3 linked regions of the Homo sapiens genome follow. The protein of the gene in region 1 purifies or fractionates together with the protein of each later gene. This does not show direct contact. Each region holds a gene or a part of one and is shown in the gene's direction. Other genes may lie near its edges. The genes, in order: KIF20A, NUMA1 and CDK5RAP2.

Region 1 (3,204 bases):
CATTCCTTAAGTGTTTGTTGATTTGGTGGAAAGATGGACTAGCAGAGAGTGCTTGAGTCCTCAGTGTTTAGGGAACAGCCAGCAGCATTGCAGGAAGAAGCTGCTTGAGTGGTCTCCAGAGCCAACCACTCAGGAAGGAATATATCTGCTGGCTCTGCACAGGAGGCAAGTGGGAGATGAAGGAGAGGCCTCTAAAAAACTGGGTCTCTCTCTAGATCTTTGGGCCAGAAGTGGGACAGGCATCCTTCTTCAACCTAACTGTGAAGGAGATGGTAAAGGATGTACTCAAAGGGCAGAACTGGCTCATCTATACATATGGAGTCACTAACTCAGGGAAAACCCACACGATTCAAGGTGAGTAGTAAGCCTTCACGGGATTCCTGATTGGCTGGTAATGGTGTTGTTTTTACCTTTTGAGACTCTGAGTTAGGGGGAGAAGGGCACTTGCCTCAGCTGTCCATCTTTCATATGCCTCCAGGTACCATCAAGGATGGAGGGATTCTCCCCCGGTCCCTGGCGCTGATCTTCAATAGCCTCCAAGGCCAACTTCATCCAACACCTGATCTGAAGCCCTTGCTCTCCAATGAGGTAATCTGGCTAGACAGCAAGCAGATCCGACAGGAGGAAATGAAGAAGCTGTCCCTGCTAAATGGAGGCCTCCAAGAGGTAAAGCATTGGTATCCATGGCAGTGGGGGTAGGGGGTACAAATCTCGGGGAAGTTTTGTGCTTACCTTCTCCCTGTGCCCCTCCAGGAGGAGCTGTCCACTTCCTTGAAGAGGAGTGTCTACATCGAAAGTCGGATAGGTACCAGCACCAGCTTCGACAGTGGCATTGCTGGGCTCTCTTCTATCAGTCAGTGTACCAGCAGTAGCCAGCTGGATGGTATGTACCGTGACTGGGCTCTGCCAAAAAATAGTAGGAACTCACTCCCTGTTCCTAATAGCTGCCAGGAGTACAGACCAGAGGTTGCAATCTAAGGTCTGCCTTCCAAGGCCCCTGCAGGCCAAAAGAGAGGTGAACTGCTCTAGGTTGATGCCCTATACATTGGCTTCTTCTCCAGAAACAAGTCATCGATGGGCACAGCCAGACACTGCCCCACTACCTGTCCCGGCAAACATTCGCTTCTCCATCTGGATCTCATTCTTTGAGATCTACAACGAACTGCTTTATGACCTATTAGAACCGCCTAGCCAACAGCGCAAGAGGCAGACTTTGCGGCTATGCGAGGATCAAAATGGCAATCCCTATGTGAAAGGTAAAGGAACATGGGGAAAGCTGGCATGAACCCTGGAGGGCAACTGGGGAGAGACTGGCAAAAGAGTTGGATGTTCCCATCTTACACCCCTCTCCTTTGGCCCCAGATCTCAACTGGATTCATGTGCAAGATGCTGAGGAGGCCTGGAAGCTCCTAAAAGTGGGTCGTAAGAACCAGAGCTTTGCCAGCACCCACCTCAACCAGAACTCCAGCCGCAGGTGAGTAGATTGTAAGAATAAACTCTTCACTGTGTTCCAGGAAACATTAGTCCTCTGCCTGGTCATGGAAAATGTGCAATGACTTTTTGTTTTTCTTAACTTCCAGTCACAGCATCTTCTCAATCAGGATCCTACACCTTCAGGGGGAAGGAGATATAGTCCCCAAGATCAGCGAGTAAGTTTATCCATTTAGAAATTTGGGCTTCTTGGCCATAAATGATAGTTGGGAAAGCATGGAGGAGGTCCTCAGGGGAACTATGTGTTCTCCTTCTTTGGGTACAGAGATTCTTAGTGGGCCGTCCCCTCTCCAGAATTATACAAAGGGCCAGAAGGCTCATAACATGTGAGGCCCTTATGTCAGATCCTGTGCATCATTCTAGGCTGTCACTCTGTGATCTGGCTGGCTCAGAGCGCTGCAAAGATCAGAAGAGTGGTGAACGGTTGAAGGAAGCAGGAAACATTAACACCTCTCTACACACCCTGGGCCGCTGTATTGCTGCCCTTCGTCAAAACCAGCAGAACCGGTGAGCTTTTGACTATAATTCCTGGGCTCTGCAATTTGCTAAGAGACTTCCTGGACACCACTGGGGATGGTGCTAGGATACCCAAAGGGCTGGTGTTCTGCTCACAGCTCTATTATCTCTGATTCTCTGCCAGGTCAAAGCAGAACCTGGTTCCCTTCCGTGACAGCAAGTTGACTCGAGTGTTCCAAGGTTTCTTCACAGGCCGAGGCCGTTCCTGCATGATTGTCAATGTGAATCCCTGTGCATCTACCTATGATGAAACTCTTCATGTGGCCAAGTTCTCAGCCATTGCTAGCCAGGTGAGAAGCTAGAGGTGTGATGGGTGTGCGCACTTGGAACTGGTAACTCTAAGAAAGCTCCTAGGGACTACTTATGGAGTCAAGTAAGATATTTTTTTTCCCTCTAGCTTGTGCATGCCCCACCTATGCAACTGGGATTCCCATCCCTGCACTCGTTCATCAAGGAACATAGTCTTCAGGTATCCCCCAGCTTAGAGAAAGGGGCTAAGGCAGACACAGGCCTTGATGATGATATTGAAAATGAAGCTGACATCTCCATGTATGGCAAAGAGGTGAGAATACAAGAAAGCTTTAGTGTAGCAGCTTAGTAGCTACACATTTTTCCATGGTGCCTTCCAGGTGGGCTTGTGCCTTCTGAGGGCATGAGCATCTGATGACCTCTGACATGTGTGTCTCTCCTAGGAGCTCCTACAAGTTGTGGAAGCCATGAAGACACTGCTTTTGAAGGAACGACAGGAAAAGCTACAGCTGGAGATGCATCTCCGAGATGAAATTTGCAATGAGATGGTAGAACAGATGCAACAGCGGGAACAGTGGTGCAGGTACTAGCTGAGTGACCCCTCTTGCTCTGTCACCTGAGACAGAGGGTGGGAAGTAAGGAGTTAGGTGGAGTTGTGCCTCAAGATCTGTTCCCCAAGTTCACTCCTCAGAACCTTCACTTACCTCTCTTTTCTCCTCTGTTTCTGACAGTGAACATTTGGACACCCAAAAGGAACTATTGGAGGAAATGTATGAAGAAAAACTAAATATCCTCAAGGAGTCACTGACAAGTTTTTACCAAGAAGAGATTCAGGTGAGTTGCCCTGAGCCAGCTCCAATTAGCTGCTCAGATTTCCATCACTAGCTTGCCTGAAGTAAAGAGATTTTATAAACTACTCCAGTAAGGGCAGGAATATATAACTCCCTT
Region 2 (3,648 bases), on another chromosome or scaffold:
AAAGCAACTTTCTGATTGTGTTACTTTCCTTAACAGTCACTTCACTTGTGGTCAGGAGTTAAGTCAGTCAGGAACTCTGACTTCGGTACATCTTGAGGGGAGGTGGGAGGGAAGGGGACAAGTGGGGTGAACATATCTCTAGTTGAATGTTGTTGGCTGGGTCATAGGACCTCAGCTCTGAGAGGGAGAATGGGATCCAGCAGGCTCCTAGGGCATGAGGGAGCCGGGGACTGGCACTGCCAGGGTGGAGCTCCTGGCAGCCATCCCTTCAGAGGCCTAACACCTAAGTGATGCTCTTTTTCTCCCTGTGGCCCAGGCTGAGTTGGCTGTCATTCTTAAATTTGTGCTGGACCATGAGGACGGGCTAAACCTTAATGAGGACCTAGAGAACTTCCTACAGAAAGGTAAGTAGGTACACACTCCTGAGAATCCCCTCATCTCTGAAATGGGGAATACTAGGATCCTGAGTTGTCAAGTATGGTGGGGGTTTGTTTCTGTCCCCAACACAAGGCAGAGTTGATGCTCAGGAAAAGTGTGTGTAATGGAGTAGGTCGATTTCTGGGCCATGTTGTATCATCTCAGTTCCTATGGAGCTCCTCCTTGCTGCCTGGCAGCAGTTATGTAGGATATTTACAAGTGATCATACCTACTTTTGTTTTTTATTTTTTAAACAATCATTACTCTAGGCTTAGAAGCTGAGAATACAGTCTTTTTATTTTTATTTTTATTTTTTTTTGAGACAGAGTCTCTCTCTGTCGCCCAGGCTGGAGTGTAGTGGTGCGATCTCAGCTCACTGCAATCTCCACTTCCCGTGTTCAAGCAATTCTCCTGCTTAGCCTCCCGAGTAGCTGGGATTACAGGCGCATGCCACCACACCTGGCTAATTTTTGTATTTTTTGTAGAGACGGGGTTTCACCATGTTGATTAGGCTGGTCTCGAACTCCTGACATCAGGTGATCCACCTGCCTCGGCCTCCCAAAGTGTTAGGAATACAGGCATGAGCCACTGCGCCCGGCCCACAGTCTTTTAAAAAATGTTTTTCCCGTCATGTAGTGCATGTTCTAGGTGGAAAGGCAGATACATAAACCAGGAAATAATGATAAGGAATCTAAGTACGGAATATATCAATGGCCTCGGCTGGTACTACAGTAGAAAGAGTGATCGTTCTGCTGGTCTTCTGATGAAGAGGTCAGCTGGTGGATGATAGGAATGTAAGAAGGAGGTCTAGGCGAGTTCTAGCCGTTGAGTTTGATGTTCCTTGTATTCAGGTTCCTCATGAGACCTTCAGGTGGAGATGTTAGAAATGTGAGTCCAGAATTCAGGAGCAGGCTCTGGACCAGAAGATAGGTTTGCAAGTCAGCATTGGATGGCCACTGAAGCCGTGGGCACTATGGGCAGAGCCAAGAGGCCCCATCAGATCTCTGGGAGCTTAGAGGGTGGGTAGAGGAGGGAGGAGCAGATGAGGAGACTTAAGAATGGGTGATTAGAGGTAGGAGAGTCCTACAAAAGGGGTCACGGAAACCACGGAAAGAGAAGGGTTTTGAGGAGGAGGGCATTTTGGAGGTGCAAGGCTTCAGGGGGGATGAATTCCAAATGGTGGCCAATGGCTCTGATAGGAAAGGTTGTTGGGGGCTGCAAGGAGATCCTGCTCAGGGCTCCCCAAGCCGTCTCTGCAGTGTGGACTCGAGGAAAAAGCTTGAGCACTTGGTGCAGTTTCTGAGCCAGAGGACACCGTCACTCCACTGTGCTCTGAGTAATGATGCTCTGTAGAAATGGAAGCCCTGCACTTCATTTTGGTTAGAGACACGGAACTCTGGATAACCCAGGCACCAGGTTTCAGGTTCTGCCCAGTGCCTTCCTTGGTAGTTTACATATAAGTATCCATGGATATACTCCCACTAAGGCGAGTTCTCAAATTGCATAAAGGTGCAAATCTTTACACCTTCTTACTAACCTTTGTTGATTTATTTTGTCTATTTCTTACCCCCAGCTCCTGTGCCTTCTACCTGTTCTAGCACATTCCCTGAAGAGCTCTCCCCACCTAGCCACCAGGCCAAGAGGGAGATTCGCTTCCTAGAGCTACAGAAGGTTGCCTCCTCTTCCAGTGGGAACAAGTATGTTCTGGGCCTCTCCTCCTGGGATAGGGCCTCAGCATCCATCCATTCCTCACATTCCTAACTTCTAGAGTTAAGATGTTAACCAGCCTCTGGGAGTGCTTAGAGTATCCGGTAGATCTGGGATCTCCTCACCTCACCCAGTATTAACTGGGGGAAGTGGTTGGGATTTGTCATGTGCAGAAGGCCTCCCTCAAAAGCTGTTCCCTGTTTATGGAATACCCTTCTTCCTCGGAGACTACAATGAAGTCTCTTCTCTTAGCACATCTCTGCAGAGCCAAGGAGAATATATCACTTTTTTTTTTTCTGACAAAGAAATTAAGGCAGTGAGAAGAAAAGTTTTCCCAAGATCATGTCATGAGGCTTGAGGTAGCACTGCAAACAACCCAGGTGCACAGGCCTCCCAGCTGCTAGTGCGCACTTCCATAGACCCCGCTCCCTTACTGCTGCCTGTTGCTGATTGCTTCAGATCTTAGGCGCTTACCAATGCATATGGGCCTTCTCCCTCCTCAGCTTTCTCTCAGGTTCTCCAGCTTCTCCCATGGGTGATATCCTGCAGACCCCACAGTTCCAGATGAGACGGCTGAAGAAGCAGCTTGCTGATGAGAGAAGTAATAGGGATGAGCTGGAGCTGGAGCTAGCTGAGAACCGCAAGCTCCTCACCGAGAAGGGTAGGTGGCTGGCACACTGGCAGATGTGTGAATAGACTTGCCGGAAGGATGTCCCCTGGCCTCCCATGTTGTCCCCTCTGCTGGCCCCTGGAGCTGAGAGCTCAGCCCTGGGCCTGTGGTCAGGCTGACCTCCTGGAAGCTAGGTTCTGTCTTTGTCCCCATCTTCTCTTTCCCTTAGATTGGATACCATATTCCTCCTCTTCCCTATGCCGTCTCCTCCCTTCCCCTTGTGCACATAGTTCTGTGCACATAGTTCCGCTCATGCACATAGTTCTGATTCTCCTCTCCTCCTCCCTCCACTCTGGGCAGATGCACAGATAGCCATGATGCAGCAGCGCATTGACCGCCTAGCCCTGCTGAATGAGAAGCAGGCGGCCAGCCCACTGGAGCCCAAGGAGCTTGAGGAGCTGCGTGACAAGAATGAGAGGTACAGCTCTCCCTGCATTCCTTCCCAGGCCCCAGCCCCTCCCCTCACCCAGCCAGGAACCCATACTCTCTTCTCACTGCTTCCCTCCCTCGCAGCCTTACCATGCGGCTGCATGAAACCCTGAAGCAGTGCCAGGACCTGAAGACAGAGAAGAGCCAGATGGATCGCAAAATCAACCAGCTTTCGGAGGAGAATGGAGACCTTTCCTTTAAGGTGGGTGTTAAGGTGGTGTGTGCATGGAGGCCCCTCAGGGCTGAGGTGGTCTGGAAGGCTCCCCAAGAGAGGGTTGAGAAGAATGTCCCAGCACCTGTCTTATGCTTCAGTCTCTCCAGAGACCTGCATATTTTGCCCCTTTCCTTATCCCATAATTGGCGGCTTCCCGGGTACTGGGCTGTGACCCTAAATGTTGATTTGTAGTTCTGAATTAGAGGTGTGA
Region 3 (3,648 bases), on another chromosome or scaffold:
TCTGATTTGGAGCCATAATAGACATCAATGTTAATATGCTTTTTGCTGTTAAATAATATTCTTAGGAGAAAACCCTACAAGGGGAACCTCATAAGTTTGGAAAGGTGCCATATTGCCACCTTCTAAATAGTCTGTACATCAGCAGTGTACAAAGGTAGTGGTTTTTGTGTGACCTCAGCATTGGGCATTACTATTTTCAACACGGGTCTGCACCTGGCCCTTTTTAAGGCTTTGAGGAGATGGGATTCAGGAACTTGTGGGGTAGGCTAGGGGAGTTTGAAGCAGGGAGAACAGTTCTGTGCTTGGGGTACCCAGGAAGGAGAGTTGGGTAGCTGAAGTGAGGAGGCCATCAAACAGCCTTTACCTGCTTTTGAAATTTGCCGAAAGCAGCCCTCATCATGCCTGGCAAGAGGCATCCAGGAGAGCATTCAGAATTCACAGTGCTGCCTCAGCAGAAAAGTTTTATAATTTCCTTGAGTCAAGATCAGAATTATAGGCAGCAGCATTTCTTCCTTTGCAAAAGACTTCTCAGGTCTGTATTTAAGTGCATCTGTTTTAAAAATTCTGTTCTAAAGGCTGATGTCTTTCACTGAGAGTGATTCCTCTTGGGGCCAGCTCTATGGAGCTGACCTCCTGGCTCCTTGGCCTTAGGAACTGTAGCACACCCCTGGGAAATGCTGGAGTGCAGTCAGCCCACCGCCCAGTGGTGCAGGAGCTCGGAAGGGGGATCCTAAGCCCTAGGCTTCCTTGCTCTGTGCCACTGACATGCTGGGTTATGCTGGACAGATCACTTTCTATCTCTGCCCCTTGGTCTCCCCTTCCATGAAATCTGAATTACAGTGTGTTTTGCCCACTGAGCTATTGAGTCCAATAGCTTTTCATATGTGAAAGTGCTTTCCAAATTATAACGTGTTGCACAGGTCATCTGTACAGCATCTATTGGTTTTGCCTCCTTACAGTGTTGCAAATACATCACCCCCCAGATCCTATTGTGGGTTACTCTCATCTCTAGCTTAGGTTAGTGTGGCAGCCTCCAGACTTACTCTTTCAGTACAAAATACAGACCTCAGCTTGACATTGCCTTGCCCAAAGCCCTTGAGTGGGCCCCTCAGTCCTCTTGGTTCTGGCCTTGCATTCTACTTTGTCCTTCCCTGCACCCGGGCCTTGGGTCTATGAACTGCTTATTTCTCCCTGAGCGATGATTCCACTCTTTGTCCCACTGTCTGCCTCTCACCTGCCCATTGTGCTGCCTGGCATTTCTTTCCCTCCTTCTTACCATAGGTCAGTCACAATCAGTCTTAAAACATAAGGTTTTAAAACGGGTATTAGCCTTTGGGAAGCCAAGTTGGGGGTAGTGCCCCTCACCTGAGCCCCAACAGCCTGTGTTTCCCTCCCTTGTCCTTGATCACACTAAAATAAAATTGCTTATTTACTTTTCTGCTGAGAGTTTTTCTAGGGAATGGACTGGGCCTGGTCACTCTGTCTCCCTGGTGTCCCACAAAGGTGGGCTTGGCAGGACAGAGGCCCAGTGAAGATTTGAAGGAATGCTGTGTGTGTATGGATAAGTGAATGTGAGGGGCTTGACTGTATTCTCTTTCAGTTCTCTCTTGAATGCTGACAACAGTGAAACTAACAGTTCTCGTGTTTTGCATTTTGTAGATGGTGACAAATATCCCATGGAAAGTGATAATTCATTTGATCTGTTTGATTCCTCCCAGGCAGTGACACCAAAATCAGGTACAAAGCTGAAGTCCAGGTAACTGTGGGAGCATTGGATGTGACAGTAAGACTTTTTAACTTGCAGAAAAGGGGGGTCCCTGGTCCCAACTCAGGAGGGTATTTGGTAAGGATTTGGGATTTCAAGTTCTCAGCATCCCCAGCTGGTGATCTTCTCCTTCAAGCCAGTTAATCCACTCCTAGGTGTTACCAAGGTTAGAACATCATTGGGTCCCTCTTGCCTTAGATTAAAATTGTGACCACCTTTGTGAGGCTTTCAAGGCCCTCCAGGATCCAGCTCCAGTGGGTCCGTCCAGCCTTATCCCTTAACCTGGTGTAGCCACACAGGGGTCACCATCCTGCAGACAGGCCCACACTTTCCTCTCACTGTGACTTTTAGACCCCCTTTGTCCCACTCTTTGCCGGTAGAAGTCCCGTTTCCTCAAGACTCATCATGAATACACATTTCTCTGTGACATGCCTTTGCTGCTGTCCTTGGTCAGAATGACTCATCATTCGTGTAATTCTTGCTACTTGCTCAATCCAGTTCAAATGCTGCTCCTTCTCAGAAGCCTTCCCTGTTCTCTCCCTCCCTGCACAGATAATTGTTTTTTCTGGCTCTGGCCCTTCATCACTCTGCTGTTGCACCTTCTGCAGTGTCTGTGTTCTGATCAGACTGTGGGCTACTGGAATGCAGGCACCAGCTTGAGTCATCCTTGTGAATCTGGGGTCTTCTGCCGAGTGGGTGGTTGATAAGTGTTGGTTGAGTTGACTTGAGCCTCTCCTACAAGATGACTCATAAGCCCAGTGTGGGGTAATATACAGAGGTCCAGGAGCGTGCCTCTTTTCCCCTCTGGGCTTGTGTTGGGTGGCATTTGGGCACGAGGGCCTCTTCTAGCCCTCCTAGCTAGCTTCAACATCATAAGCGTCTTGAACGCAGAGTGTTACCTGAAACAGATTTTACATCCTACTTCTCATTTTACAGTTTCAGAGACTCCTCCACTCTCTGGGAATGACACGGACTCCCTCTCCTGCGACAGTGGCAGTTCGGCAACTAGCACTCCGTGTGTGTCCCGCCTGGTCACTGGCCACCACCTGTGGGCCAGCAAGAATGGCCGCCATGTCCTGGGCCTGATTGAGGACTATGAGGCCCTGCTCAAACAGATCAGCCAGGGACAGAGGCTCCTTGCTGAAATGGACATTCAAACCCAAGAGGCTCCCAGCTCCACAAGTCAAGAGCTGGGAACAAAGGTAACCTGACCACAGAGCTGGGGGGCACAAGCTGCTCCCTGGGAGTGTCGGTGGAAGGGGGAGGGGAGTCAAATGGCGCAGTTGTCCTCATTAGGACCCTGAGAAGAGGGACCAGGAAGTGTGGCCTCAGAGAGCTCAGAGGTCAGGTCCAGTGTGGGGAACTATTGGTGGTGGCTGTGTTTGGTGGGGTTTGTGCCTTGTGTTCCTGCAACTGCTCCATGGGCTCTGCTGTCTTGTTCCCATGACGGCCTCTGTACATCTGGTCTCTCATCCATTCTTCTCTCCATCTGCACCCTGGTGTGTCTGTCCATTCATCTGCCCATCCACCTGGCTGTCGCCCATTATGAAGTGGAATTACTAGTTCAAAGGTTGTGAACTTTTTAGGGCTCTTGATGATAACTGTTGCTCCATTACTTTGCAAAACAATTCTATCTCTGTTCATGAACGTTTGTCTCACTACATTTTTGTTTTTGTTGAGGTTTTGTTGTTGTTGTGTTTTTTTTATTTTGAGACAGGATCTAGCTCTGTCACCCAGGCTGGAGTGCAGTGGCGCGATCATGGCTCACTGTAGCTTCGACCCCACCTCCTAGGCTCAAGCAATCCTCCTGCCTCAGCCTCCCAAGTAGCTGTGACCACAGGCGTGTGCCATCACACCTGGCTTTTAAAAAAAATTTTTTTTAG

What was found.
Region 2: the proteins of KIF20A (region 1) and NUMA1 purify together in Homo sapiens (affinity purification with mass spectrometry; 2 studies listed by BioGRID and IntAct, with this or other methods). This does not show direct contact.
Region 3: the proteins of KIF20A (region 1) and CDK5RAP2 purify together in Homo sapiens (affinity purification with mass spectrometry; 2 studies listed by BioGRID and IntAct, with this or other methods). This does not show direct contact.

Annotation. Positions count from the first base shown.
Region 1 is NC_000005.10:138,182,108-138,185,311, forward strand, and holds part of KIF20A (kinesin-like protein KIF20A), read left to right. Parts: intron 1-215; coding exon 216-354; intron 355-478; coding exon 479-666; intron 667-753; coding exon 754-883; intron 884-1,061; coding exon 1,062-1,256; intron 1,257-1,362; coding exon 1,363-1,474; intron 1,475-1,580; coding exon 1,581-1,649; intron 1,650-1,854; coding exon 1,855-1,998; intron 1,999-2,131; coding exon 2,132-2,297; intron 2,298-2,404; coding exon 2,405-2,569; intron 2,570-2,699; coding exon 2,700-2,839; intron 2,840-2,987; coding exon 2,988-3,090; intron 3,091-3,204. UniProt on the Homo sapiens protein: Mitotic kinesin required for chromosome passenger complex (CPC)-mediated cytokinesis. Following phosphorylation by PLK1, involved in recruitment of PLK1 to the central spindle. Interacts with guanosine triphosphate (GTP)-bound forms of RAB6A and RAB6B.
Region 2 is NC_000011.10:72,017,960-72,021,607, reverse strand, and holds part of NUMA1 (nuclear mitotic apparatus protein 1), read left to right. Parts: intron 1-316; coding exon 317-404; intron 405-688; exon of another isoform or gene 689-1,282; intron 1,283-1,990; coding exon 1,991-2,114; intron 2,115-2,598; exon of another isoform or gene 2,599-2,627; coding exon 2,628-2,785; intron 2,786-3,094; coding exon 3,095-3,212; intron 3,213-3,307; coding exon 3,308-3,425; exon of another isoform or gene 3,426-3,648. UniProt on the Homo sapiens protein: Microtubule (MT)-binding protein that plays a role in the formation and maintenance of the spindle poles and the alignement and the segregation of chromosomes during mitotic cell division.
Region 3 is NC_000009.12:120,402,125-120,405,772, reverse strand, and holds part of CDK5RAP2 (CDK5 regulatory subunit-associated protein 2), read left to right. Parts: intron 1-1,659; coding exon 1,660-1,737; intron 1,738-2,701; coding exon 2,702-2,967; intron 2,968-3,648. UniProt on the Homo sapiens protein: Potential regulator of CDK5 activity via its interaction with CDK5R1. Negative regulator of centriole disengagement (licensing) which maintains centriole engagement and cohesion. Involved in regulation of mitotic spindle orientation.